6 separate regions of the Homo sapiens genome follow, and regions 1, 3, 4, 5 and 6 are each reported to be linked to region 2. The links are microRNA targets in miRTarBase. Many come from high-throughput screens and were not tested one by one. Region 2 holds a microRNA gene; each other region holds the end of a gene's coding sequence.
What was found. Region 2 holds the annotated microRNA hsa-miR-6768-5p (CACACAGGAAAAGCGGGGCCCUG, at 2,860-2,882, shown strand). A microRNA usually pairs through its seed, bases 2 to 8, with sites in the 3' UTR of a target mRNA and lowers its output. Matches are read on the target gene's strand: a 7mer-m8 pairs with bases 2 to 8, a 7mer-A1 pairs with bases 2 to 7 and ends in A, and an 8mer does both.

Region 1 (4,969 bases), not on the chromosome of region 2:
TGCTGGGATTACAGACAGGAGCCACCGCGCCTGGCCAGATCCTGTTTTATGTATGTTGCTTCTCTGTGATTTTTTTTCTCCTCTTATAATATCATGGATATTTTTCTGTGTCAGCTTATACCCTTGTTTCCTCTTTTCTTCATCACTATCCACAGATTCTGATATACCTACCTGAAGGATAGTCCTCATCCAGCTCCACCTGATCATCTCCTTTTAACCTCGCTCCTCGGTTGAGCATTACAGTTGATTCTTACTCTGTACAGTCTCACTAGCCAAGGCAATCTTGTTGGACATTTGATTGTTCGAATGTGTGTGTGCATTTTTTCCTCTACATTTCCTCCTTCCTTTGCCCTTCCCTGAGACTGTGGCATTTTTCCTTGGGGAGGGGAGGTGTGGAGTGTGCTCTTCTGGTTGAGAATCATTGAGGAAGGACATCTTGCTTCTGTGATTTCAGATTTCACTGCAATGTTGTTACCTCTTGAAACATGTTCGCTTGAACCGTTTGCTGTTGGGTGGATGGGGTTTGGGAGTTGGGCGGGGGAATGACCTGTTTGAAAATAATTTTGGGTGCTAATTTCTGGGACCCATGTTCATTTTCTGTCTCTCTCTTTCGTTTTTCTATCAGGACCAGTATGTTTTCCTCAATCAGTGTGTTTTGGATATTGTCAGATCCCAGAAAGACTCAAAAGTAGATCTTATCTACCAGAACACAACTGCAATGACAATCTATGAAAACCTTGCGCCCGTGACCACATTTGGAAAGACCAATGGTTACATCGCCTAATTCCAAAGGAATAACCTTTCTGGAGTGAACCAGACCGTCGCACCCACAGCGAAGGCACATGCCCCGATGTCGACATGTTTTTATATGTCTAATATCTTAATTCTTTGTTCTGTTTTGTGAGAACTAATTTTGAGGGCATGAAGCTGCATATGATAGATGACAAATTGGGGCTGTCGGGGGCTGTGGATGGGTGGGGAGCAAATCATCTGCATTCCTGATGACCAATGGGATGAGGTCACTTTTTTTTTTTTTCCCCCTTGAGGATTGTGGAAAACCAGGAAAAGGGAGCTATGATTTTTTTTTCCAAAACAATTTCTTTTTTAAAAAAGACTATTTTATATGATTCACATGCTAAAGCCAGGATTGTGTTGGGTTGAATATATTTTAAGTATCAGAGGTCTATTTTTACCTACTGTGTCTTGGAATCTAGCCGATGGAAAATACCTAATTGTGGATGATGATTGCGCAGGGAGGGGTACGTGGCACCTCTTCCGAATGGGTTTTCTATTTGAACATGTGCCTTTTCTGAATTATGCTTCCACAGGCAAAACTCAGTAGAGATCTATATTTTTGTACTGAATCTCATAATTGGAATATACGGAATATTTAAACAGTAGCTTAGCATCAGAGGTTTGCTTCCTCAGTAACATTTCTGTTCTCATTTGATCAGGGGAGGCCTCTTTGCCCCGACTCCGCTTCCCCTGCCCCCTGTACATTTGTGCTCCATTTTTTCTTCCCTTTTCCCTCCCAGTTTTCTCCAAAGACTCTTCTGTTGGCAACATTTTCAACCCATTGGTTGGGTGAGAATGGCGACTCAAATATCACCTTGAGAATTTCTGTGGGTGGGAATGGGAGAAGCAGAGGAATCCTACAGTGGCAGAAATCCTTTTCTTGTCCCTGTATTATCCTTTTTCTCATGTCTGTATTTGGTATGAAGGATTATTTAAAGGTGCAATATGTGAATTAGTGATTCATGATGTTCTAGGTTTTTAGTAACGTTTTACTCAGGTTGGCATTTTATGTGTCTGTGTCTGTATGTGTGTGTGTATGTTCAGAAGCGTGGCAATCTGTGAACACTTCAGCGTGAATTCAGTGTCAGATTAATCCCTCCTTCCCCAAAGTCCACTGGCTTTCGTCTCTCTCTGCCGTGACACATATCGGAATCTACTGTGTATATATATATATATATATATATATATATATATATATATATATATATACACTAAGCTCTCAAAAACAGTCATTCCTATGAATTGAGGTGTACAAAGTTTGAATTTGTATCAAAGATGTAATTATTATTTTTAAAACCTTTTCACTATACTGCTGCTGTAATTACTTTGATTTTTAAAATGTAGATTAATTTTTTTTTTTTTGCTTCAGGTGTGTATCCACCAAGAATTTCAAATTTATGTGGATTTATTTTATTGGTACATAATCTGTAAACTTCTTAAGGCATTAACATGAAAAGATTTTTTCTTTTTATTTTATATTGTGGCTCAGGTTATATTTTGAAGATGTTTTGAGTTTATCCTCCAATAGGCAATGAAGTTGACAAGGTTTTATGAAGGAATAACCAAGTCCCTGGAGTCCTGTGGCTGTTGCCACAGTAATGTGTCCTGCTGTAAACAGGACAGGTGTGTCCTGTTGAGAATGTGAGCGGGCTCTTCCAGCCTCCTGGTCCCTCCTGACTCTGCCACGCCCCTCACCTCACTGGCACTTCGATAACTGACTGGACGTGTTAATGGGTCTTTTAGGGTTCTAAAGGGTGAACCACACTTTTAAAGCCCCGGCTGTGGTTCGGAGGGTTAGTGCTGTATGCCTTTTATTTCCCTTTCCCTTTGAGGTACTGAAAGGATGAAAAGGTGGTGTCATGTTTTGGGGAGAATCTTACTTCTCAAATGGAAATTGCACTTTTTGCTGAATCCTTTGCATTTTTTTGGTAGTAAGCAGTTCATTGAGTATCAGGTCCTCAAAGGAATGAGTTGGCCCGGCTAGGGTGGGCCCTCTTGACCTAACTTCAGAGGGGGCCTTGGCTCAGTAGGTGTGAATCAGGGAAGCCACATTGTCCTCAGGGTGCTGTATGAAGCTGGGTGTGGGCGGATTCCTCCCACACCTTCACACTGGCCTGCCTCCAACTCATACAGATCTCGGAGCGGTCGGTACTTCATTCATAGGTCCCTGTTCAGGCAGCAGTTCTGTGGGCTGTGGCCCTCTCCCCTCCAATATGTCCGAAACCATTGTGATGGGTGGCAAATCCCAGGGAGCTCCTAAGCCCTGCTCTGCCCACATCACTGCCACAGAGAAGTCAGAGGAAGGGACTTGTTGCTAAAAAATCCTTTAAAAGGTTAAATACTTTAAAAGATTAAAGCAACATAACTGTAAACATATTGTATAAAAATGAAAAACACAGGAACCCTCTTCCCTTCCGCCTGGTGTGGGCTTGGGAAATGGGCAAGCGGCCCCAGCAATCATGGGAGGAACTCTTGCGGGGGAGCGGTCTGGGATTCCAAATGGGCAGGTCACACGAAGGTCACGATGCTTCTCTGCATCCTGAAAAGGGCTGGGGACAGGGCCAGTGGGGGTGGTAAGGGTATTTATAGCACAGTGCTTGAAAAGGGAAGATTAATGTGTAAATATAAAGGACACACAGGCTGGGGGTTGGTCAGAGGCAAGAGGAGGGTGCCTCTGAGCTTCAACCCCTCCCAGGAACAATGAGCTCAAATTGGAAGAGTCCAGTGGAATCGGGGGGATGGTGTGAGCACCCCTGTTCAGTCTTTGACAATTGCATACAGAAAAGCAGCTGGTATGGGTTTGGGTGTCAATGAAAGGGCCAAAGACTGGTGGCCAGCTGGTTTGGGGGATTTGGGCCATTGATAGCATCTCCCAGGAACAACGACTTTTTGCCTCCAAAGTTGGATCTAGTGATGATCAGCACCAGCAGGAAATGACATTTGGTGTCTGCCCACTGCAGCCATACTGTGACCTCCAGCCAGACTTCCGCCTAATTGACTCCACTGGATTTGTGCTCTGTTGAGTCAGAGGCTCCCGGGGGTTGGGGATCGAGGGGCGGGGGTCAGCTATGCAGCCCATCACGTGTGTTTTTCATCTGGGATGAAAAAGCCTGGTTCTCTTTTGAAATGCTTGATTGTACTTATTGAGCTAAACAAGTCTTGGTGACTGTTGTTGATTTGCCTCAAAAGTTTTAAGTCCTGGGTTTTCAGACTACTGTGTAGCAGCTGTGTGTTTAACATACTGTAGCTTTTTCTCCCTTGGGGGCACATACAAATAGGATGTGTTGATGTGGACTCTAAACTGTAATTTTCCTGTAACTATTTTGGAATGATGCATATTTCTAATGTTTGTTATACTTGTACAGAGTATTGCTGTTGGTTGCTTTTTTTTTTTTTAAGGAAAAAATGGCCTGAAAACATTTTTTTAAAGACTTACAAATACCAAATATAAAAAAATGTCAATGCATTATGCCTTTGCTTCTTTCTTTCTTCTTTTTTCCTTCTTACAATGTGCCAAGCAGTTTACTGGCCTGCATTTTACTTGGGCATCCTTAACAAAAACACATTTCTCTTTGGGATTTCCGGATTGTTTTAGTTTTCTAGGGCTGTTGTAACAAGTACCACCAACTGGTGGTTTAAACAGCAGAGATTTACTTCCTACAATTTTGGTGGCTGAAATCCAGATGTGGGCAGGGTTGGTTTCCTGTGAGGCCTTTTTTTTTTTTCTTTTTTTGAGACAGAGTCTCACTCTGTTGCTCAGAGTGGAGTGCAGAGGCGTGATCTCAGCTCACTGCAACCTCTGCCTCCTGGGTTCAAGCAGTTCTCCTGCCCCAGCCTTCAGGCGCCTCTCTTCGTAGCTTGCAGATGGCTGTCTTCTCCCCATGCCTCCACATGGTCTTCCCTCTGCTTGTCTGTGTCCTAATCTCCTTCTTTTTTTTTTTTTTTTGAGATGGAGCCTTGTTCTGTCGCCCAGGCTGGAGTGCAGTGGCATGATCTTGGCTCACTGCAACCTCTGCTTCTCGGGCTCAAGCGATTCTCCTGCCTCAACCTCCCGAGTAGTTGGGACTACAGGTGCCTGCCACCACACCCAGCTAATTTTTTTGTATTTTTAATAGAGACAGGGTTTCACCATGTTGGTCAGGCTGGTGTCGAACTCCTGACCTCGTGATCCACC
Region 2 (4,642 bases):
GTGTTGGGATGGGAGCCCGAACCCCCAGGCCTGGGGCGGGCCTCAGGGACCAGCAAATGGCCCCATCCGCTGCTCCTCAGGCCCCAGAAGCCTTCACACTCAAGGAGAAGGGGTAGGTTTCCCGGACCCTCACTGGAGGGACTTCTGTCTCTGCCTCCTCAGACCCTGGCTAGCAAGGAGCCTGGGATTTGGGGTGACAGGGAAGGCAGGGCATCGAGCCCTGTGGCATACCCCTGAGGCTCATGCTCAGAAGCTGGCAGAATGAAGCAGCTGTGTGGTGGTGTCCAGGTTGGCACCATCAGGTCAGGGAAGTACTGGAGCCTGTCCTCCTCTCTTCTCTGTGGCTGTCCCCTTATTTGCCCAGGCCAGAGGCTCCAGATGGGCTCTGGAGGGCGTGGGATCTGCTCACAGGGCCCCGCTCACAGGGCCCCCTCTTCTCTCTAATGGGGCAGCACTGGACGATGCTTCTCCTATGGCCACTCTGGAAGCCCTATCCAAGGGGGCTCATCCTTGGTGGGGTCGGGTGTGGGAGAGGGGCAAGAAGCCTCATCCCTGATTGGGCTCTGAGCAGGAAGTGGGACTTGTAGACCCCAGAGCAAGGCGATGCTCCTCTGAACACGGGCTTCTCCGACAGGCACCTGCTGCGGCTGCCTGCGGCATTCAGGAAAGCAGCTTCCCAGAACTCGAGGTGAGGCTGAGGTCTTTGGCTGGACGGGGGTAGGGGAGAACCGGGAGGCATCACCAGCTCGGGGACAGGTTCGAGATACTTTCCAGTGGGTCTCTTTGTCCTCTTTGCTGAGTGGGATCACTGTCGATGTTAAAAATCTGCCAGCCGGTCAGCTTTGTCCCCTTGTCCTAGTCAGTGTCCTCTTGGTTCCCTGCGGCCTCTGGAGGCCCCTCCTGGCATTCAGCAGAGCCAGACGCCCAGCCTGGGGTCCCCACCCTGGCCCTTGCCTACCTCCCAAGGCCCAGCTTACTGGCTGGAATAACCGTGTCCCTCTGTGGTTCCTCTGTGCACCCCACGTGTGCACCCCAGCCTGTGGGCCCAGCTCAGTTCCACACAGACCAGTGATTCCACGGATGCCGCCGCTGCCAAAACCCAGTTCCTCCAGAACATGCAGACAGCTGTATCCTTGCTGGGCTTGTGGGAGCCCTGGGGGCCTCTAGCTCTGAACCTGGCAGGTTTGCAGAGCAGCCCCAGGAGGGGCTGGCGTGGGATGGCCAGGGCCACTCCCCAGGCCCCGTTCTTGGTGGGAGCAGAGGGGCTTTGGCTGCAGGGAAGTTTTCCTGACCCATATCCAGTCAGGCGGGCCCCAGCCCAGGCTCAGTGCTGTGGAGGTGGAGGCGGAGGCGGGGCGCCTGCGGAAGGCCTGCTCGCTGCTGAGACTGCGCATGAGGGAGGAGCTCTCGGCAGGTCAGTGGGTCCTGGGTCTGTATCAGGAGGAGTGTGGAGGGCCAGTGCAGGGAGGGTTTCCAGACTGCCACGGGCCCCACCTGCTCTCCCTGACTCTTCTGCAGCCCCCATGGACTGGATGCAGGAGTACCGCTGCCTGCTCACGCTGGAGGGGCTGCAGGCCATGGTGGGCCAGTGTCTGCACAGGCTGCAGGAGCTGCGTGCAGGTGAGACCCCGCCCCCACCCTGCCACCTGCACTGAGGTCTGGGCCGGGGACAGGGTGCTTTAGCCAGGCTTGTCTGCGCCTCAGGGAAGGGTGAGCAGCCCAGGGACCAGATGCAAGTTGGTGGGCCCCTCCACCCCTCCCACGCCACTCCCCAGTGTGCTGGGTCCTCACCAGTCGTCCTATGGGAGCAGTCAGCCTTCCTCTCCTCCTCAGGGCAGCTCTCCCACCTCGCTGCTCCCCGCACACAGAACCTCATTGCTCTGAGCAGTTGCTTATTCACCCAGTTGTTGAAAAACTAGCATGTGAGGGCCGGGCGCGGTGGCTCACGCCTGTAATCCCAGCGCTTTGGGAGGCCAAGGCGGGTGGATCATGAGGTCAGGAGATCAAGACCATCCTGGCTAACACGGTGAAACCCTGTCTCTACTAAAAATATAAAAAAGTAGCCAGGCGTGGTGGTGGGCGCCTGTAGTCCCAGCTACTTGGGAGGCTGAGGCAGGAGAATGGCGTGAACCCAGGAGGAGGAGCTTGCAGTGAGCTGAGATTGCGCCACTGCATTCCAGCCTGGGCGACAGAGTGAGATGCCGTCTCAGAAAAAGAAAAAGTAGCGTGTGAGGCCGGGCACAGTGGCTCACGCCTGTAATCCCAGCACTTTGGGAGGCCAAGGCAGGCGGATCATTTGAGGTCAGGAGTTCAAGACCAGCCTGGCCGACATGACGAAAGCCCATCTCTACTAAAAATACAAAAATTAACTGGGTATGATGGCGCACACCTGTAATCCCAGCTACTTGGGAGGCTGAGGCACAAGAATTGCTTGAATCCAGAAGGCAGAGATTGCAGTGAGCTGAGATTGCACCACTGCACTCCAGCCTGGGTGACAGAGTGAGACTCCGTCTCCAAAAAAAAAAAAAAAGAGAAAGTAGCTCGTGAGAATCAGCTCCTGGGAGGTGACTCGCCTGGGATTGCGTGAGGTGGTTATTTATAGAACTTGTTTCCTCCTTTGTATTTTCTAATTGCTTGAAGTTTTAAGAGTGAAGATACATCATTTGTCAAAAGGAAAGACAATCTCATAAAAGTCATGCATAAACACAGTAAAGAAATTAGGCAGGCAGAGGGCCACCCCACAGAGGACTCCCTGCCAGCAAGTCCAGGCCCAAGACACACCATCTTGCATGGGGCTGTCCTGAAAGCCCACCTTTCTCCTAAAGGCAGGGCAGGTGGTGCAGATGCGGGAGGGCCAGGCACACAGGAAAAGCGGGGCCCTGGGTTCGGCTGCTACCCCAAAGGCCACATTCTCCTGTGCACACAGCGGTGGCGGAACAGCCACCAAGACCATGTCCTGTGGGGAGGCCCCCCGGAGCCTCGCCGTCCTGTGGGGGTAGAGCGGAGCCTGCATGGAGCCCCCAGCTGCTTGTCTACTCCAGCACCCAGGAGCTGCAGACCCTGGCGGCCCTCAAGCTGCGAGTGGCTGTGCTGGACCAGCAGATCCACTTGGAAAAGGTGCTTCTGGAAGAGGAGGTGGGGGTGCAACAGAGGTCCGCAGCCTTGAGGACCCGAGGGTAGGGGCTTGACTGCTCCACCCCCCAGGACCCAGGAGGATGGGGGCAAGCCTGGGGTCTGTGTGTGTGGGTTGGGAAGTGCATGGGTCAGACGGGGCTGGGACGGCAGGAGGGAGCCTGGAGCCTCAGAAGGAGGGAGGAGGGCTGAAGCATGGGGGCCTCGAAGCCTGTCCCAGGATTGCCCCCCGCCTAGGTGCCCCTGAGACCTTGGCCCTGCCCTGCCCTGCCCCCAGGTCCTGATGGCTGAACTCCTCCCCCTGGTAAGCGCTGCACAGCCGCAGGGGCCGCCCTGGCTGGCCCTGTGCCGGGCTGTGCACAGCCTGCTCTGCGAGGGAGGAGCACGTGTCCTTACCATCCTGCGGGATGAACCTGCAGTCTGAGCCTTTCCCATGCTGCCCTCGGCCTGTTCAGATGGGGATTGGGGGTGTCTTCCCTGGCACTGTGCTCGGGGACCCAGAGATGCCTGTGCTTCCCTGGGAAACCTGGTGAACTGGACCAGGTGGCCTCACTGGCTCTTCTCAGGACAACTAAGCCTGCTGGTCAGGGCTGGCTTTCAGCCTTCCTAAGGCTCCTGGACTCCAGAGGCCAGCGGGGAGCCTTTCCTGGCTCCCTCTGTTTTCTCTCACTGTAGACCAAAGAGCCGCTTGTGTGATATTAAAGCCACTTTAGAAAGCATTTGTGTTTATTTATGTTTTTGAGACAGTCTCACTCTGTCGCCTAGGCTAGAGTGCAGTGGCGTGATCTCAGCTCACTGCAACCTCCGCTTCTGGGTTCAGGCGATTCTCCTGCCTCAGCCTCCCGAGTAGCTGGGACTACAGGCTTCGGCCACCACGCCTGGCTATTTTTTTTTTTTTTTTTTTTTTTTTTTTTTTAGTAAAGATGGGGTTTCACCATGTGGGCCAGGCTGGTCTCAAACTTTCGACCTCAGGTGATCCTCCCACCTCACCCTCCCAACGTGCTGGGATTATAGGTGTGAGCCACCGTGCCTGGCTGAAAGCATATGTATTTAAATCATGCCAAGGTAGGACTTGGTGAGCCCTTGTTGTTTCTTTATGATTTTATCAAGTTATATCACTGGTTGATACATGTCATGCTGAAAAAGAATATATCAAGTGTATTTATCAAGATTATAAGTGGGCCGGGTGTGGTGGCTCACGCCTGTAATCCCAGCACTTGGGGAGGCTGAAGTGGGAGAATTGCTTGAGGCCAGGAGTTTGAGACCAGTTTGAACAACAGTGAGACCCCATCTCTACACAAAATTTGAAAATGAGCCGGGCATGGCGTGTCTGCCTGTAATCCCAGCTACTTGGGAGGCTAAGGCGGGAGGATCGCTTGAGCCTCGCACTTTGAGCCTGCAGTGAGCCATGATTGCACCACTGTGCTCCAACCTGGGTGACAGAGCGAGACTCTGTCTCGATATCCCTTCTGTATAAAGGACGGGACAAGGCCACTCAAGGCAGGCCCAG
Region 3 (4,969 bases), not on the chromosome of region 2:
ATGTTCAAATTCTTATTCAGATCCTAAGAATATTCTATGACAGCACTGTTTTTGGAAAATGAAATTTCAACATATGCTCTGTGTTTCTAGGTGAGTGATAGAATTTTCTTTTGTAGCTTTTGAATTTTCATTTACCAGACTGCCAGTGAGACATTTGGACCTTAGCGAAGGAAGATGGGAAAACCTGTGAAAAGAGTCTAACCTGCTCTAACACTTTTGCCACCCTTCCCTCTAAAATATTCTTTAAGGGAAACAGCCACCACTAGAAGATGCTTTTCCAGCAGCTTCCTTTCAGCTGGAGCACTTCTTCAGCAGCATGCGAGAAATCCCCGGCAGAAGATGTCAACAAGCTCTCTCACCTCCTGCTTATGAGTTTTTCCAGGGTTCAAGTTCCACTGCTTAACAGCTGTTTGATCTTGTGCCATTAATTTAGCCAAGTGAAACCTCAGTGTTCTCACCTTTAAAAGGGGTGGAAATGGCACACATAGTAAAAGTGGTCTGTGGATTAAATTAAAATGTAAAGTAAATGTAAAATTCATGACTCGTAGTAGGCATGTTGTAAGAGGTAGTATCTTGTTGTCATAAAGAAAAAAACAAAACTAAAAATCCTTCAAAAATTGGCTCTCAATTTGATTAAATCAATACTTTTTGCAAGTAAGGCCAGAAAGAATTTTTTTTTTTTTTTTGACATGGAGTCTCCCTCTGTTGCCAGGCTGGAGTGCAGTGGCACGATCTCGGCTCACTGCATCAGGTTCAAGCGATTCTCCTGCTTCAGCCTCCTGAGTAGCTGGGACTACAGGCATGCTACCATGCCCAGCTAATTTTTGTATTTTTAGTAGAGACGGGGTTTCACCATGTTGGCCAGGATAGTCTTGATATCCTGACCTCGTGATCTGCCCACCTCTACCTCCCAAAGTGTTGGGATTACAGGCATGAGCCACTGCACCTGGCCCAGAAACAATTTTTTTTTTCTATTCTTCTAACAGAGAAAATTCTGAATGAGTGGACAACGAGGCTTATATTAATTTGAAATTTAGCCACTGTAATGTTGCTCTCCACTTTCAACAAGAGGGTTCTGCATGTAGTTATACCTGAAACTTAAAGATGGGTGTATGCAGCATGCCATAAATAAAAATCAATTCATTATTTTTATTTAAAAACATTTGGAATGAATTTAGTGTCTGGATTGACAATGTAGAGCTATACATTTTCTTGTACGTATGTGGAGATGGCATTAGTAATGGAGATATTTTATATATACAGGTTATTTAGAACCTGAAAGATTAACTTTACAAATTCAGATGCATTTGAATTTGATGGTTAAGGTAATATGAGAAGTAGAAGAGAGACAGGGGGTGGGGGGGAGAAAGAGGTGTTGGAATTTGTAATTATGAAAGAAGGTAACACTGTGTTTCCTTCTGTCTTATAGCCTGAAGAATAAGTAGTGAAAGCATCAATCAAGACATAAGAACAAAACATTAGCATTTCTCTGCCGTGGAGAATTGCTTATCAACCACCAGAGGAGGCTTCTTTCTTGAACAATAAACATTTCTTATAAGGATTCACAGATTCACATACGACTGATCTTGATTTTTGGAAATGAATGAGGTTTCTTTTTTCTTTTTCCTTTTTTTAATTTTGGGGTAAGTTATGATATTTGGATGGATTTTTAAATTCTTTCCTGATAACATATTTAGCACATGTTCTAAATTATAATCCTATAGCAAACAGTTGGAGCATTATTCAAACTGAAAGTGGAAAAATTTAAATTTCCAATTTATTCTAGATTTCCTCAGAGCATAATTATTCTGTTAAATCCTCAATGAGTGTGATGTAAACCACCTCTATCCAGAAATATACATTCTTTTCTCATCATGTTGGACACAGTTGAGGGTGACATGCACAGAACTGGAACAGATCACTATTAGTGGAAAATACCAAATGGACAAATAAATACCAGTCGTTTTCTCCGTTCTCCAAGCACAGGAGCCAGGTTTACCATCTGAACAATGAAGACGAAGGGAGTAAATAAAGGAAGAATTCTCATCTTTTTTCCTGATCATTCAAAGAACAGTTTCTCAAGGTTAAGCCAAGTCCTCCTTGCAAGTTGCCAAATAATAGCTTAGGAAAAGAATTAGTCTGCCTGCATGATGATCTTCTTAGGCAAAAACGTCTTCACAGCCCTTGACCTTGGTGAATTTTTTTCCCCAAAAGCATCCAAAAGAAGAATTATAAACCCCAGAATGAGATGGAAATAAACAAGTATTTTTTTTTATGATGTTTGGCCTGAACTGTGGGCTTTAATTGGGGGATACTGATCGTTTGGAAAGAAGTGAGAAAATTCTGAAGAAATGGCGGCCTTGGGCTAGGCGGGGTCCCCTATTTCTTCTGTTTCTCACTGAAGTCCTACTGCTGAGCCAAGACTCAGTCACTCTGGAAAGAGCATGACCGATAAAGAAAACAGTTCCTTTCTGATGGGGAGCGTCTGAGTGCAGATCATGAGGCTCTTTCTCTAGGTTTAATTCTTTTCCATGGTGACCGGACTTGGTGTCTTGTAGCCTGGTTACGAAGTGGGACGTTGAGCTTCTACTGACGATGCCCTGCATGGACCAGCTGGGATCTGGCTGGGGCTGCCCTGTGTCCCTAACGACCATAGGCAATCCATCTTCTTGTGTCAGCAATTTCTGGACACCCACTGTTTTCCACCAAGAGCTGAGGTGGCAACAACTCAGTGAGCAATAAACAAAATGACACAGAAATGCACAGTGTTGTTATGAAGGAGCCTGTTTACCTGTGTTCAAAATCTGGCACCATTCCCTTGAGCAGGGCCCGCTCAGGAGGGACCAGGTCTGCCAGTTTCTGTGCCTGCAGAGAGACGAAGCCCCACGAGCCACACCCTACTCTACAAGAGGAAAGGGGGTTGGATGGGAAGAATCTATTTTGCTGTTTTGGAAAGCACACAGCCGACCTACAAACCTCCTGTGATGGTGTTTCTTCGGATGTGTAAAATAAGGCTTTATTTGTCAATTCCGCTGTAAAATAAGCATTGTCCGAGTAAAAACAGCAGCAACAACAAAACACTGTTTCAGTTTGGGTTTAGTGAGTGAGCTTATGCCCTAAAGTGCTGTGTGTGTGTGTGTGTGTGTGTGTGTGTGTGTATTTAAAATAACCTAATATAGAAAAGTCTATGAACATAGATTTCTTTTACTTTACAGAGAGGCTATGCCAAACCCTTTATAGATAATCTTCCGGCCATAATAATCAGATTATTTCAGAATTCCTCATCTAAATACCATTGCTCCTTGGCAACCTGTCAAATGCAAGTGAATACCCTGCCAGAGGTTTTGTGTGTTTGTTTGTTTTCAAATTTCTTTATTTTTGCCCATGCAGATAGTGGAAATTATCATTCTAGTGTACCCTGGAGATGACATATTTAGTTTTAGGCAGGAAGGGGCTGCTAATGTTGTTTATATTTTGGGAATTCTGGAATGGAAAGATTCCTACTTGGGAAGCTAGCTGTTTGTGGTTGTCTTTTCTGTTTGGTTTGCTGTGGTTGTGTTTGTTCAGCTAAGTCATATCTTACCTTCCCATTTTTTTATGAGTGGATGGGAGTGGGATGGAAGGTAAATGTTTTCAAATAACCAAATCAATTCTGAAGGAGAGGAAAGAGACCCACACAGACCCAGGTGTGTCCCTGTCTTACGTCCAGTCCACCCGGAGCTGCTGACACGTGGTCCCAGCAGAGACTCCGGGCCAGCTGAGAACATGAGTCAAGTGATTTTCTGTAAAATGTTAATTAAAAGGACCTAGGAAAGAACCCATATATTTGAAAGAGTGAAGCTATTCAAATTATCAATATTTAAAGTATTTTTACTGTTCCAGAGTTTTTATAATAATGTTAACTAAACTAACCAAATACTGCCCATTTAAAGTTTTGCTGCAGTGAGGGAAAAATTATTCAAAATTAACATAACACACAAGCTTAATGGACTCCTTATACTATATCAGAGTAAAATTATTTGTATTTAAAAGGTTAGTGGTTACGTGGTTGAAATTGTCTTCTTAAGAAGATAAAACACTCCTATAGTCTTGGTCATGCAGTTAATTTACTTTGCAAAAAGTTTTTCTCCGTCAGTACAGAGGTAAGCTTCAGGCTAGCACCTGTGCCAGAGGCCACAAACGCCACGGTAGTGAAACCCAAATTAATGAGTCTTCATTAAATTTAGTCTCCAAGCCCAGTGAACTAATAAATATAGTCATAAAGTAATCTGCTAAGTAAAGGGGACTACAGTGATTCCTTTGGCTGATAAAGGTAGTAATAAAACTCTCATCCGCAATTGCTTGACTACAAAGACAAATAGGATTTGTGTTTCACTTGCCTGTTAGACGACATATATAAGCATAAATTGGAACTGAAAGAGTCTTTACACTTTTTTATTGACATGAGTTTATTAGGTCAACCAGACCAAAGGATGAAAAATTTAAGATACATGAAAAATACTAAAACTCCCATAGGAAAATTTGAGCCTTCTGGTTGGGGCTGGGGGTGGAGTGTGGGGGCATTCTAACTCTTCCAAAGCTGATATTTTGAGTCGGAAATTTCTGACAAGTCAGTGTGAACACAGAATATTAAAGCCCCACTAAGAAAATTACCTTTTTAAACTGCCAGGTAATAAAATAACTATACTCTCTCTATATTCCATCCAAACAAAATATTCATTGTTCACTTGACCCACTTATATGAGGAACTGTTTTTCTTTTGTGACCAGAATAAGGAGGGTCCAATCAACATATTATTGTGGAGATAGCCTTTTTTTTTTTTTTCTGGCTTCTACCTAATTTATTTATAATAAAGACAAGCTAGGCTACCTCATAGGATTCTGGTGTGGATTCGCTAATTAATAAATATCAAGTGCTTAAAAATATGGATCTCTGTATAAATCCTGCCTTAATTTGTTTTCTAGTTTAA
Region 4 (4,968 bases), not on the chromosome of region 2:
TTCACAAATGCGTCAGAAACACTACTACCGAAGCTATGAGTACGACGTACCTCCTACCGGCACCCTGCCTCTTACCTCCATAGGCAATCAGCATACCTACTGTAACATCCCTATGACACTCATCAACGGGCAGCGGCCACAGACAAAATCGAGCAGGGAGCAGAATCCAGATGAGGCCCACACAAACAGTGCCATCCTGCCGCTGTTGCCAAGGGAGACCAGTATATCCAGTGTGATATGGTGACAGAAAAGCAAGGGACATCCCGTCCCTGGGAGGTTGAGTGGAATCTGCAGTCCAGTGCCTGGAACTAAATCCTCGACTGCTGCTGTTAAAAAACATGCATTAGAATCTCTAGAACACGAGGAAAAACAGGGTCTTGTACATATGTTTTTTGGAATTTCTTTGTAGCATCAGTGTCCTCCTGTTTTACCATGTCTTTTACCATTACATTTTTTGACTTTGTTTTATATGTCGTTGGAATTTGTAAATTTACATTTTTTTTAAAGAAGAGACTGATGTGTAGATAGAAAACCCTTTTTTTGCTTCATTAGTTTAGTTTTAGAATGGGTTTTTATTTTATTTCCTTTTTTAAAATTTTACTTTGCTTTTAACATTTCCTTGGGGTGCTTGGACAAATCTATCCGATGGGACAAGGAGCACCGGATTCTTTCTCGGGTTCTGCCTAGCATCAACTGGGCCACGTCGGCCTTCAGAGAACAGTGCAACAAATGCCAGCATTGCCATTCGGGGGAAAAAAAAAAAAAAAAAAAAAAGATGAGAAGAACACTTGTTCATAGGAGGGCCCCACCAGTCAGAGCCCTGAATCTCTTCCTTGTCCCACCTCATTCCCCACCTCTACCTTTCTAATGGCGGCATGATGTGTAAACTCTGTGCAGGGGTGGGGGCGGGTCTAACTGTCTTAACATTCAAGTCACTGCTCTTCAGAATACACTCTAGACCCAAAGGTGTGCTAATCACTTCACAGTGACCACTACAGAGTACTAAGAAGAGAAGATCAAGGGCATGAAATTGGGGAAGAGTGTTATTTCCGTTTTTTAAATGAGTTGATGTACCCTTATATATATATACATATATATATAAATATAAATATATATAAAAACAACAAAACAAAACAAAAAAAGAAAAAAAAACAAAAAACAAAAACAAAAAAAAAAAAAAATCAAGCCCTATATTTGATCACTTCCTGGAAAGGCATGAATGTGTTTGTGGCTGTTTTTGTTTAATCTTCTACTTCCTCTTTTCCCTCTATAATTTCTCTGCAAATGAGATTCTGTGCAAATGCCAGGCAAGTTAATTCAAAAGAGTGAATCAACGCAAGTCAAAATGAAATTTACACTGAAGGCTTCCAAACCAAAGGGAAGGACAGGATGTGTCATCAAATATGTTTTGTCACCTTGTATTATACAAAATGTTATTTTCTAAAGAGTCAGAGAAAATCTGTGAAACTTATTGTGCGGCCCCCTTGTAATTAAATGTTAACTCCCTTGTATTTAATTTTCAACACTACATTAAGAATTAAGTGGTTTCAGTTTGTGGACATAAGCAACACTTATTAATATCAAGGTGTTTAAGAACTCAGGAGGTCAAACATATGAATACCAACAGAGATCAGTATTTTCAAAATAAACATTATTTATACAAAATAGTTTTTAAATTAGATCAGAAAGTATTTAAAATAATTAATTTTACTGTATAAAGAATTTGCTTTATTTTAGCTATGTAATTCTATCTTTCAGAAAACAGAAAGCTGATGCTCCCAAGAAGTTCATCCCTTACCATTTAGCTTTATGTTTGAAATCAATGACATAAGCAGCTAATTCATATTCATGTGAAGGTTGATGCAAAATCAATCACAAAGGAATCTGCAGAGGGCAGAGTTGTTAAAAGGAAATATTACCTATGTAGCTTTTAGTTTTTAAAAAAAATCAATGTGATAAAAACACTGATAATAGAACTTATACATTAATTTAGTGATTCATTGTAGGAACTCCCATCCCAGTCATCATCTGTGGGCCTGTGTAGTGACTATCGTACGTTTGGTTTATTCCTACCACCATTTAGTGAGAAAACAATTCTACACTTTTGGTCACAATAGTAAGGTGGCCACACACACACACACACACACACACACGTGTAAACTGCAATAGGGTTCATTGGGGAGGGTGAGGTTAATTTGCAAATATATGAAGAAGAAGTGTAAGCATTTGTAACAATGAAAAGGTCTCAGTATCTGTGTGACAAGGTAAAGGAGCCTTGGGATGTGCATTGATTATTATTTGCTTAAAAATTGTTTATTTCCCTGACAACTCGCCTGTGTCCTTCTCTATAATCTGTTCTTTATTCCCGTGCTCTCCCCTTGGATCTGTGTCACATTTTCACAAACCAGAACTGAAGCTGCAAGGACACATAAAACTTTAAGGTCAGCTTTGCACATTGGGTTATTTTCAGAATCTGAGAAGGCCATTGTTTACTTTGTACTATGGACAGCTGTCAGGGACTGGTGGCAGTGTACCTCACTGGACTGGATTCCAAACTCCCCCAGTGCTCAGAAAACTGTAAACGTGGCAATGGCCTGATTTATCTCTTTGTTTTTTAATTTTTCTTTTCAGTGCACGATGGAAGTGTGGAATAAATGTAGAGGAAGTAATCAGACCACAGTCATATTTTAGGCATCCATAGGTGTTAATTTAGCTGCATTGGGAGTGCATTTTTTGTTCTATTTTTAGTGTAGATTTAAGCACTTTGAATAGCATGATTCAGGGATTGATGGGTAATATTTGATATTCTCACAACTTATGAAACTTCTTTTTCCTCTAATGCTTTGTCATATTTAAAAAATGAAATAAATGCAAAAGAAGCTATCTATAGCTTTAGAAACATTCCTCCCAAGTATTCCTCTATCAGCTCCATGTGAGAAGAAATGAAGGAAACTGTCATGTGTTCACGTGCTCTATGTTTAACAAAAGTTCTGTTAGAACTCACAATAAAAAGAGAAAAAAATCAATGTCCCCTAGTGCTTAGGTTTCATCCTTCGCTTTTTTCAGTGGGGGCTGTGGGGGATAAGAATATTCTAGTTGTAAAAACACAGTTGAAAGTGTGAATATGTTAGCCAAGCTGGGGGAGAGAATGGACTTCCAGACTTGGACATACGTGATGTTTGGTATTGCCTGTTTTTCATCAATTGCCGCTCGAGCTCTGAACGACACATTGTGGATTCAAAAGATCATCCGGTTCTTTAGTGTAACCTCTACTTGCTGCTTATGAGCATCCTACCCCTTATTTGGGTGCTCAAAACTTTTGCTTATTTAATTTGTACTGCATTCCTTAGGTCTCCTGTGGGCAGAGAAGACATTTGTATCTCATGTAGACAGCTGATTTAAGTTTAGATCAATTCTATGAAACAAATCTGAGACATGAGTTAAGAGACCTGAATCTACTATATTTCTATAGCTAAAAACACTCGATTGCTCAAACAGTAAACCACTTTGTGATTATAACTTTCTTCATAGTATATGTATTTGGACCCTATCAACTTAATCTTAAAATATAGATGCTGGTTTCTTCCATATTTCATTGCTATCTAGCATTTTATAACAAGAATATTAACTGAGAGCCAACCCTTAAACTGTAAGTCTTGTTTATCCTAGAATAGTCATTAACTTTTCAGATATCATTTATATAAATTAAGATCACCATTTCTAGGAAAACATTGATTCATACATTTGTGAATTATTTTTGGATTCTGGAATGATGCCCTAGTTCTCTTTTTTGTAAGGAGTATTTTTTTAATCTTGTGATTAATTTCTTTATTTATTAGGTTAAGTTTGTAACATTAGTCCCAGAAGAAAGCATATTGAAATTTAAAGGATAGCATCAGCATACAAATGAAATGACTGACTGGAAGTAAGAGAATACACAGACATAGAAGAGGAAAATCCCTTCCTGTCTCTGATCTGAACTTGCTTGGTCATTAATCTCATTATTGACATAGCTGATTAATAGAGGTGAAATATTATTAAATAGGTTAGAAATCCCATCTACAGACAGACACACATTCCCTATTGCTGAGGAACTTTTCTAACAGTATATACAGTTATTACCAAAAGATGGTGATGCAACTAGAATCCCTAAAAGGAGAAGCTTATCAATGGAAACAGAGGCTATTCCTTGCCTTATCATGAATCCTTTACACTTCTTTATTGTTCTGAACAAAGAAGGTAACCAATAATCAAAGTTTGATTATCCTTAATAGTAGATCTTAATCTTGGGTTCAAGGATACCTTGTGTCTATAAAAAGGAATAAAATAACAAAGCCCTTGAAATTCCAGACAAAATTGTTAATGTGCGTAAAACGGTGTTCGTCTGGGTGTGAGTCTCAAGACATCTAGCACCTAAAAAGCTACTGATGTTTGGATTTAGAAGATATTCTCAGAAACTGATATTCAGATAAACCCACATAACTTACAGGCATTGTTTTGTCTACCACTGTCTACCTTCATTCATAAAAACTCTGGAGATAATTATTGTTCTACTAGAGACAAGTCTCCTTCCAAAATGGCCTGGCTTTGTGGGAGACCCAGCATACTGTAAACAAAAATTTTGTATGATGACAAATAATTCATGCTCAGATAAAAACTAATTGGCTATCATTGTTGTGATAATCTTACTCATGTCTTCACCCATTCTAAAAATAGTTTGGGGTGTGTGAAATTATGTCATTTGGCAATGATGCCTTATTTCAGTAAATTTATTTATGATTTATGTTTAATTATTTTTCCTACAACATAACTAAGAATTCATCCAGTACAGGAAAAGAAGAAACAAACATTTGACATGTTTTTCTAAAAAAAAAAAAAGAAAATCCCACCAAGTTTTTTTTTAGGCAAAGATTTAGAAGTGGCTATATATTTGATTTTCAACAATTATGATTTTGCCAGTTTCATAAC
Region 5 (4,969 bases), not on the chromosome of region 2:
GGTCTGTAACCAGTTGAGCTGAGTTCCTGGGTTGTTAGGGCGGCTGGCATTGGAAACCGACTCCTCCCTCCTGCAGGACATTCCTGGGCCCAGGAGAGCCTGTGGGTGGGGCTGGGCCACGTGGGGAACTGGCAGCAGTACCAACCTTGGGTTCTCGTGTTCTGTACCGAAGCTACCTCTCCGTAGCTGGAGCTCTTGGGCCCAGCAGTCAGGGGTCCAGGCTTTGGCCGAGGGCAGAACCTTGCCTTTTCCTGGCCTTGATTTGCCTCGCAGTGAAATGGGGCAGTGGCCCGGAGGGAGCCAGAACTCTGAGTGGCCTCGAGGCTGAGAAGAGGACAGATGGGAGGGAAGCAGGGAGGAGAGCCGCAGTTCTTCCCAGTGGCCCTGGTCAGCGTGAGTGTGTCTCGTCCTCCCTATGAGCACTGAAAGAGTCCTAGACCACTTGGGCTCTGAAGCAAGAGGGGCAATGAGCCTCCTCTCTAGGGCTCTCCTACAGAGTAGCCCCAAAGACACCCCTGGGCAGGAAATGAACCGCTCCCTTCTGCTTCAACACAGGCAGATTCTGCCCTCCAGGGATGTAGGCCGAGGCCGTCCACCCCGGAGCTGGGTCTTTGAGCTCCTGGACCCTTCTTTGCCTGACACTGGCCTTCCTCTCGGAGGGACAAGGAAGCGTGGCCTCCCTTTCACTCACCTTACTTTTCCTTCTGGTCCAGGGCCAGCTCTTCCGAGGCTCCAGCCTGCTTTTCCGCCGGGTGTCATCAGGATCATGCTTTGCCCTGGAGTAACCTGAATCATCTAAAAAACACGGTCTCAACCTGGCCACCGTGGGTGAGGCCTGACCACCTTGGGACACCTGCAAGACGACTCCAACCCAACAACAACCAGATGTGCTCCAGCCCAGCCGGGCTTCAGTTCCATATTTGCCATGTGTCTGTCCAGATGTGGGGTTGAGCGGGGGTGGGGCTGCACCCAGTGGATTGGGTCACCCGGCAGACCTAGGGAAGGTGAGGCGAGGTGGGGAGTTGGCAGAATCCCCATACCTCGCAGATTTGCTGAGTCTGTCTTGTGCAGAGGGCCAGAGAATGGCTTATGGGGGCCCAGGTTGGATGGGGAAAGGCTAATGGGGTCAGACCCCACCCCGTCTACCCCTCCAGTCAGCCCAGCGCCCATCCTGCAGCTCAGCTGGGAGCATCATTCTCCTGCTTTGTACATAGGGTGTGGTCCCCTGGCACGTGGCCACCATCATGTCTAGGCCTATGCTAGGAGGCAAATGGCCAGGCTCTGCCTGTGTTTTTCTCAACACTACTTTTCTGATATGAGGGCAGCACCTGCCTCTGAATGGGAAATCATGCAACTACTCAGAATGTGTCCTCCTCATCTAATGCTCATCTGTTTAATGGTGATGCCTCGCGTACAGGATCTGGTTACCTGTGCAGTTGTGAATACCCAGAGGTTGGGCAGATCAGTGTCTCTAGTCCTACCCAGTTTTAAAGTTCATGGTAAGATTTGACCTCATCTCCCGCAAATAAATGTATTGGTGATTTGGAGTTTTTTGTGGGGCGTCTCTTATTTTTGTAAGTTTAAAAATCTATCTATAGAGTCTATCTTTCCAAGTCCTTCCTGTTGGTGTGAGAAGGGGCTGTAAAGAGGCAGGGCAGGGGGCTGCCAGATTGGAGATGTAGGTACCAGAGCTTGGTGTAGCTCAGTCTCCAGGGAGACACTGGGTGATGAGGCTGGGGTGTCAGTTTCCACAGCAGCAATCAGTGTGCAGGTCTGTTGCCAGGGAGACAGGCCTTTCAGAAAGTGTTCCACTCACACCCCTTACTGTCATATCTCAGCACCATTTGAGGATAACGTAGCTTCAAGTTTTACGAAGAGTCACTTGGTGTAGTGGCCATGGTTACATCAGAACGGGCAGACCTCCCTTCCATCAAATGGTTTTTGCCCAGCACTGGAGTCTGTAAGCAGACAAAACTTACAAATATTTTGAGACTCAGCTGGGTTCCCCCAGGTATTTCTCTGCCCTTGCTCGAGGTGACCTGGCTTGTGAGAGTTGGGGTCTGGTGGGTTTGGTCATATTTCCCTCCACAGGTAGGGGCTGAGTCACCCCCGCCAAAGGGAAGGCCCCTGTGTTGCTTGTGCACAAGTGGGTGTTCCCAGTGGCCTAGTAACAGTGGACTCACAGGCAGTTTCACCTCACATGTCCTTGTTTCCCAGGAACGCAGAAGTGTGCCTGTGTGGGTATTATGTAACTACACTGGTTGAGGCCACTAAGGTCTCATAACTTTGTCACCCATATTAACTTTCCTAGGGAAACACCCAAGAGGGCTAAGGTAGTGGGAAGAACACATGCAGGGGTGGGCAGGGCAGGCCTGTAGAGAAGGAGGGCCTCGGGTTCCCAGGCCCTTCAGAGGGGAGTCTGCCCTGTGGCCTTTCTCCAGCCCAGCGTGCTTTCCCACAGCACTGACCACTGTTCTGGGGTATCTTTTCTTCCTGTTGCTCCAGCCTCAGATCCTGTTTTTGCATTGATTAGTTCCTAAGGCCCCCCGAGATTGAGGGGCACCTGTATCTCTGGAGCCTGAGCTAAGCTAGATCTGAAGAGCTCCTCCCAGAAGTTCAGAGAGGCTGCCCAGAGTAGAGAGCAAGGTTTTAGTGGCCTTGGCCAGTCACCTCTGGGAGGGCTGCTGCTGCCCCCAAGTAACTTCCTGAATTTGGGGGTTTCAACTTCATTTCCCAGGCCATCTTCCACACCCAGAAATGGCATGAAAATCTCTTGATACTGTGTCCCAGTTATTGGCTGAGCAAAGTACAGGTTTTTAATCTAATGAAACAGGAAGTTTTCAGTTCATTCAAATTCTTGTGTGTGTGAAATGCTCCTAGACCATTTGATCTTTGGGGGTGAGACCCTGTCCATCTGCCCTCCTAGCAGTTCGCGTGTTTCCTGTCGACTAGTCCTGGAAACTAGGATGCTGGGTCCTCATCTGAGAAAGGAGATTGGGTGGGATTGGGCAGGAGGAGACCTCAGCTGCTGGCAAAGGGAGGGGTGACAGGAGGAGTGTCCTCCTCCTCCCGTCCTGGGAAACCTCATCCAATGGGCAAAGCTGAAAGGGCCTCTGACAGGCCTTTGGGGACCTCCTTATATATATCCTTACGTATATACCCAAGATAATTGGAAACTTAACGTTCACACAAAAACTGGTATATGAATGCTTAGTAGTAGTATTCGTAGTAGCTCAGGAGTGGAAACAGCCTGAGTGTCCGATGACAAATGGAAATGTTCTATAGAATGTAATGAATATTCCATAGAATGGAATATTACTTGGCAATAAAAATGAATGAAGTTCCGATTCATGCTACGACATGGATGAACCTTGAAAGTATGTTGGCTGAGAGCAGCAACTCACAACTATAATCTCAGTCCTTTGGGAGGATAGCTTGAAGCCAGGAGTTCAAGACCAGCCTGGGCAACATAGTAAGAACTGGTCTCTACAAAAAATTTAAAAATCAGCTGGACATGGTGGCATGCACCTGTAGTCCCAGCTGCTCAAGAGGCTGAGATGGGAGAATCACTTGAGCCCAGGAGTTGGAGGCTGCAGTGAGCTATAATCCTGGATGTCAGAGCAAGATCCTGTCTAAAACAAATTATATATATTTATATGCTAAGTGAAAGAAGCAGTCACAAAAGACCATAACATATATGATATGTCAAGAATTTATATGGATGTTAAGAATAGACAAATCCATATAGATAGAAAATAGATTAGTGGTTGATTGGGGCTGGGGAGGTTGGAGGGAAATAGGGAGTGACTGCTAATGGGTATGGGGTTTCTTTTTGGGGTGATGAAAATGTTCTAAAATTGTGACGGTTTTACACAACCTTGTGAATATAGTAAAAACCGTTGAGTTGCATATTTTAAATGGGTGAATTTTATGTTGTGAGTTATATCTGAATAGAGCTGGAAAAAACATAGAGTAGACCGGGCGTGGTGGCTCACACCCGTAATCCTAGCACTTTGGGAGGCTGAGGCCGGTGGATCACCTGAGGTCAGGAGTTCAAGACCACCTGTTGACCAAACCCCGTCTCTACTAAAAATACAAAAATTAGCTGGGCGTGTTGGCAGGTGCCTATAATCCCAGCTACTCGGGAGGCTGAGGCAGGAGAATCGCTTGAACCCGGTGGGCGGAGGTTGCAGTGAGCCGAGATCACTTCACTCCAGCCTGGGCGACAAAGCAAAACTCTATCTCAAAAAAAAAAAAGAAAGTAAAAGAGGGGAGTGTCCTCCTTGGTTACAGGTCGGTTCCCAGCCCTGGCCTGACTTGGGTGGTGTCCTGTTTGACTGCTCACCTTCCAGCGGTGGTCTGGAGACTTGCTCTGCCCCTCCCTACCACCCAAGCCACCCTCAGTCATCCACCACTGCTACCCCAGCATATGTGTGCTTTCCTGATCCTCAGCACCTCTGGACAGTCCTGCTTTGCTCCCCTGGGGAGGGTCTGGGACTCCAGATCCCTTTCTTAGGACTCTTCCAAGCACCTGGGGCTGGCAGAGCCTTGCCTGATGTACATTTCTGACCTTGTGTCCCAGACAGGCCTGGATAGCAGCGCCCCCGTGAAGAGGCCGCATGCCATGCTTTGATCCTGGGCTCCAAACCTACCTAGGCCCCACTGGTGACTCCTGAAGCTGGGGGAGTCAGCCCAGCACCCTTGGCCTTCCTTTGGCTCTTCCCCTTCCTGCCTGCCACCTGTGATTAGGGGGAGGCGAGAGTTATAGGAAGGAAATGAAGGGTGGGTCCCAAAGAGGAGACACTAAATGGAGTGTTTTAGAGGAGGGGGATGAGAAAGAGAAGGAATAGTTGCCACAGGTTGGACAGGTTTTTATTGGAGAGTCAGGAGTTACTTTCCTTCCCTCGTCCCTGCCTCCCCCACTCAAAGAACCCCACTCCAGTGGGGCTTGTCCTTCATCTGCCCCTAG
Region 6 (4,969 bases), not on the chromosome of region 2:
GACTGTCTGTACTAAGATTTTAGTGAATAACTTAATTTTTGTAAACTGGAAAACCTGACAATATGATGTCAAAAGGAAGAAACACAAGATACAAAGCATACTGTATTTTTGAAAATATACATCAATCAAAATTTCTTATGAATACTTATCCTTGAGTAAAATAATTTCATATACCAACAAGGATGTTTCCATTTCTGTAAAGTCATGTAAGTGATCCTCAATCAGTCCAAGAACTTGGCTTTTTATCCAGGTTATATTTTAATATCTGGAGTTTTAATCCAGCATACAAAAATCACCAGTATACATCTATTAAGTTAACTGCAGTATTATTTCACCATCACCATTTACATGTACTTTTCAGGTATCAGAGACTTAGTGCTTTAAGTAGCAAATTACCTAAATTATGAACACATATTTCCAAAAACAAAATCAAGCTCATAATTACCAAGTATATATGTACAGTGCAGATTAAAAAAAAACTGAATTAGCACATATTTCTCTTTTCTAAAGCTCCTATGAAGAACTTACACTCTTCTGCACTACCAATCTATTCTGTACATTTAAAATAACATTTGTTTTGATTTAAAGTCAAAAATATAAAGGCTTAAATTTTTGTAAGACTAACCCATAAAAAAGGACTCCAATTTTAAACCAATCCCTGAAACCAAAGCATTCAAATATTTGAATATTAGTTCAATATTTCTACATAGCACGATAAGATTTTCAGTTACTTCAAGTTTTGTCTTTATTTTTAATAATGGGAATGGCCTACAATTACAATAAACAATTAATTCAGTTATTTTAGGGGCCTTACCATATCATTAACCTATTCACACAACAAAAATATTTTTATGAAAGTTAATATATCCTTTCCTGATTAAGTGTGCTAAAACAGAAATAGAGGTAGAATCCCATTTTTCTTAAGTACCACTCTACAAGCCAGTTCCACACAATTAAGGTATTTTTGCAATCTAAAATAGTGATGCTAATACTGCTTCAGTAAGCTAGATTTACTAATTTAAGAATCCTAAGAAATTATATATGTGGCTTTCAGACATCCATGTTAAACTATCAACTTGTGGAATTTGTGGAACACTTACCCTACTTGAGTGACCATAAAGCAAACAACTCTAAAATTTTTTCATATCAGTTTTCTTTATAAGTGATTATATGATATTTCACCATTTCTAACAGGAAAAAATGAGACTTACTTGGCAGTGTGCATGGGCTGCTGGAAACTACAATCAGAGTGTAAAGACAAATCTCAAAAATGTTTGTAGATAACTCAGAATAATAACCCAGAATATAACCTATCAGGAACTATGGAATTCCATTTTAGTCTTCAAATAATAAACTCCACTTAGCAGGGATTGTGAGGTTGCTCTTAAAATTATATATTTACAGAACATAGTGGCCTCAGCACAAAATAGCTCCCTCTAGACATCACTACTCTCCACTCTTCAAAAAAAAAGTATATACATTCATTTAAAAAAAAACACCCAAAATATCACCAGTACATTTTATAAAATTAAATCCAAATTTTATTAAGGATTTCAGGTTACATACTTCAAATTTCTAGAATGGAATGGAATCATTTTGGAACTGGAAAAATGGCATAAACACTGACGTCCCTTAAAACTTCAATTTTATAAAGAAAATTCTTCTGCAAACCACATCCCCTTTATGTAACAAGACTAGGTATTATCTACACCTTCACTTTGGCAATAGCTATTTCCTAAAGAATGAAAAAGATGATTTTGCTACTTCAGTTCATTAAAAATGGGATTCTATCTTTGAAGTTCAGAAAAAGCTGCATTTCGATGAACTATGGTTAAAAAAAAAAAGCACATAGTGTCTAATCAAAGCAAAGGAAATCATTTTGAAAATAAAGAAAAAAAGCTATTATAATTGGTTAAGGATTTCCAGTAGTAAGTTAAAATCTCAGGAGAGGAATGGATAGCACTACAAACAATGTGTTCACATTCCAAGACCTTAACACTAACTTCTCAGAAAGGAAGTTTTCATTACCTCTAAAAATCAATTCAATGTAATTTTATTAAGAGCAGGAAATCTAGACCTTCCTCTAATGACAATCCAATAATCCACCCTCACTGTCAAAAAAAAGTTCAACCCCAAAATTAACAGTAATTAGCCTGAGGTATTGTAAATGTGGCTCTACAGTCTGAAATTTAATGGCATCTTTTGTCAAAAATAGTCTTATTTCCACTTTAAGTCTCATGACTACAATACTATAGTGCTATCCCTGTAGTATTTACAATACAGTCATCAAAAATATCTGAAAACAAATCTTGGACCTTGTGAAATAGTGCATCCCTCCACTTCTATAAAAATAGGAGCCACACAAAGATCTAAAAAGAGTGCTGACTGCCCAGATCCAGAACAGAGGTACTTAACACCTTTGTTTTCCAGTTTAGTTATCAAAGCGTGGTGTGAACAAAATGCTTAGTGTCACACTGGCATTACAAATAGGCCCAAAATTTTGAGCTTTTAACAAGATTGAGAAACATTATATGAGATTTAACTCAATATGCCTTAACACATCCATGAGGTAGTTAGGTAAACAGTACTACCCATTTTAATTACACAGTAAACAGAAGCACGGGTAAGTGACATACTCATACTTTAAGCAATAAGAATTAGAAGAAACCATAGAAGCTTGGGGCCTTCTCTCTAGCTCTAACCCAAAGAAAATGAATTTTTTTTTTTTTTTTTAAAAGAAAACAGCATCAATCACTTAAGATTTTCTTCCTCTTTTTTTTTTTTTTTTACACTTGCTTATTAGTATAGCATCTCGTTCCAAAGCTGGTACCTTTTCTTCAACAATGTGTTAAAAACTGAGTATAACCCTTAATTCAAGGTAGGCCTCTACTTCTACCTGAATTGGTACAAAATTAAGACATTATCTTGTAAGAACTAAAATTGTATTTGAAATTTTTATTTTAGCTGCAAAAACAAAAACAAGCAAACAAACAACAAATAACTTGAAAATAGGCTTGTCAAATGATGTAAATTCATCCTTTCCAGGGAAGCAGAAGGTAGACCCTACCACAAAGAAAAGATGCTTAGTTAATGGAGGTTAAATTTAAAAATACAGTTAAATTCAGGCTAACTTCTGAAAATCCCGTTTTATTCACCTCACTGTGGTACCAGTAACTATACTGAGTCAGGTTACTTTACAGTTAACTATGTCACCTAAAACACAATAATCCATTAACACTCTAATAACAGTTATTGGGTGTGGTCATACTGGAAATTCTTAACCATATAGTTGTCTTGCCAATTTTTTTTTTAAACAATAAATTGTCTTAGTATAAGTCACTGCATTTCTGTAACAAAGTAATGAAAGGCACAGCTAATCCAAGCGGACTTAACCCTATTCAACAACCAGCTGAAAAAATACTTTGGTTCTTCAAGGAAAAAATTACAAAAAAAAAAAAAAGGTATTTCCTTTAACAGTTGTTAATTTTCATAGCTGTACTCCAAGAGCTACATAAAAATATTCCAGAAGAACCAAATTATGTAGCAATGAATGAACATGCGTGACAGAATTTGTGCATTCAACATAGCTGGCAGAAAAACTAGTTAAAATGCTAGGTAGAACAAATTGGTCTTTAAAATATCAGTTTCCTGTCCTTTAAAAAAAAATTACCTAGTCTACCAAGAAAATACAAAAACATAAGGCTGTAAGTAAATAAGAGTTGTGTTTAGGCTATTACAGTGCAGGTTATCCTCAAGGCCACATACATCCTGCTTCACTGCTGCTTGCACTCTGCTGGGTTTTGATCCTTCTGTTAAAGGAAAACAACAAGTCAATCTATCTTCTTCTACCTGCTTCAGTGAATTTCTCAATAGTAATTACTGCCTTAATTATAACAGTAGCTCACTGTTGTCAAAAGAAATGGTATAGGACAATGGTGGTAAATTATTTATTTTATTAGCAAGTCACTGAAATGCTAAAATCAAGCTCAAACTTTACACTGTAGAATTAACTCCATAAAATGTGACACACGCTAAACCATAATCTTAAAAAAATAAAGTTACCAAGCAATTTATGTTAGTTATATTACCAATCAGCTTTGTTTTTGCTAATCCTAATATAACAAATTCTCAGGAATAATAGACTAGGACTCTCAGGGACTGAGTAAGAGTAGTTGGAAGGATCTAACAAACTGCACTGCTCCCCAGTTCCCGAACACTCCTACAACCAGATCTTTTAAAAACCTTTATTTTCTAATGCTTAAAAACTGTTACAAATCGTCCCATTAAAATAGAATCCTAGGGTTCACTGTACCTGAAACTATAAAAAGCACGAAGTCCAAACAAAAAACAATGTTTTTTAGAAAAACGTCCACTGAAATTATGTGTACTGTTCACAATGCCAGTGGGACTGAAAAAACAAAGTTATCCAGTCAATAGGCTTTATTTATTAAAGACTTTAACGGAGAGAAACTTGATATTCAAAAACACCAACTCTTACTTTAGCTATCTTAAATTTAATAGAAAGCAGCACTAATTTTGCTCACCTTTGGGTCATAGTCTGGATCATTTTCCTCATCTCCTTCTTCTTCCCCTTCCTATATTAAAGTTCAAAATGCATCCATGAAGTATGTACATAGTAGGTAAACTGGCTCATAATGTAGGGAAAATTTAATACAAGTTACTCTACGGATCAACAGATTTTCATGATTACAGACTTTGATGATAATACAATTTAATTTGAAAGCTTCTAATATGAAAAATTTCCCAACACAACTTGAGACATCCAGACAGCTTTTATTGAAAATAGTTACTGCAGCCAACGTTGGAAAAGTTTACTGCAGCTTTTGACTTCTTCAAAGAGCTGATAACCCTGCAGCAGAACAAAATTATTTGAAATAAAAAAATGTTGCTGAGTTTTGCAATTTATTTATTGAAACCTTATACATACATTGTTTGGCTGTAGAATTCT

Region 1: miRTarBase lists PTPRJ as a target of hsa-miR-6768-5p. Seed matches in the 3' UTR shown: 7mer-A1 at 1,952-1,958 and 7mer-A1 at 4,010-4,016.
Region 3: miRTarBase lists ZMAT4 as a target of hsa-miR-6768-5p. Seed matches in the 3' UTR shown: 7mer-m8 at 2,635-2,641 and 7mer-m8 at 2,791-2,797.
Region 4: the mRNA of IL1RAPL1 is a reported target of hsa-miR-6768-5p. The part of its 3' UTR that is shown has no 7-base or 8-base seed match.
Region 5: the mRNA of MTCH1 is a reported target of hsa-miR-6768-5p. Seed matches in the 3' UTR shown: 7mer-m8 at 1,285-1,291.
Region 6: miRTarBase lists NAP1L1 as a target of hsa-miR-6768-5p. Seed matches in the 3' UTR shown: 7mer-A1 at 2,602-2,608.

The regions. Positions count from the first base shown.
Region 1 is chr11:48,166,579-48,171,547 of GRCh38, forward strand. PTPRJ (protein tyrosine phosphatase receptor type J) reads left to right here. Exons shown (of 25, transcript NM_002843.4): 25 at 626-4,261. The coding sequence ends at 784. Among named protein-coding and RNA genes, the nearest start is that of OR4B1, 48 kb to the right of the region's middle.
Region 2 is chr16:2,461,113-2,465,754 of GRCh38, forward strand. MIR6768 (microRNA 6768) reads left to right here and starts at 2,855; the gene lies at 2,855-2,926. It overlaps TEDC2 (tubulin epsilon and delta complex 2), which reads left to right. Exons shown (of 10, transcript NM_025108.3): 4 at 1-112; 5 at 635-688; 6 at 1,037-1,127; 7 at 1,303-1,414; 8 at 1,519-1,620; 9 at 2,927-3,117; 10 at 3,410-3,851. The coding sequence ends at 3,556. TEDC2-AS1 (TEDC2 antisense RNA 1) reads right to left here. Exons shown (of 1, transcript NR_135198.1): 1 at 3,838-4,642.
Region 3 is chr8:40,528,699-40,533,667 of GRCh38, reverse strand. It overlaps ZMAT4 (zinc finger matrin-type 4), which reads left to right. Exons shown (of 7, transcript NM_024645.3): 7 at 1,430-3,078. The coding sequence ends at 1,445. Among named protein-coding and RNA genes, the nearest start is that of SIRLNT, 190 kb to the right of the region's middle.
Region 4 is chrX:29,955,577-29,960,544 of GRCh38, forward strand. It overlaps IL1RAPL1 (interleukin 1 receptor accessory protein like 1), which reads left to right. Exons shown (of 11, transcript NM_014271.4): 11 at 1-1,142. The coding sequence ends at 244. Among named protein-coding and RNA genes, the nearest start is that of MAGEB2, 260 kb to the right of the region's middle.
Region 5 is chr6:36,964,719-36,969,687 of GRCh38, reverse strand. It overlaps MTCH1 (mitochondrial carrier 1), which reads left to right. Exons shown (of 12, transcript NM_001271641.2): 12 at 714-1,547. The coding sequence ends at 785. PI16 (peptidase inhibitor 16) reads right to left here. Exons shown (of 7, transcript NM_153370.3): 7 at 4,851-4,969. Among named protein-coding and RNA genes, the nearest start is that of PI16, 12 kb to the right of the region's middle.
Region 6 is chr12:76,044,656-76,049,624 of GRCh38, forward strand. It overlaps NAP1L1 (nucleosome assembly protein 1 like 1), which reads right to left. Exons shown (of 15, transcript NM_004537.7): 14 at 4,545-4,595; 15 at 1-3,809. The coding sequence ends at 3,774. Among named protein-coding and RNA genes, the nearest start is that of PHLDA1-DT, 15 kb to the left of the region's middle.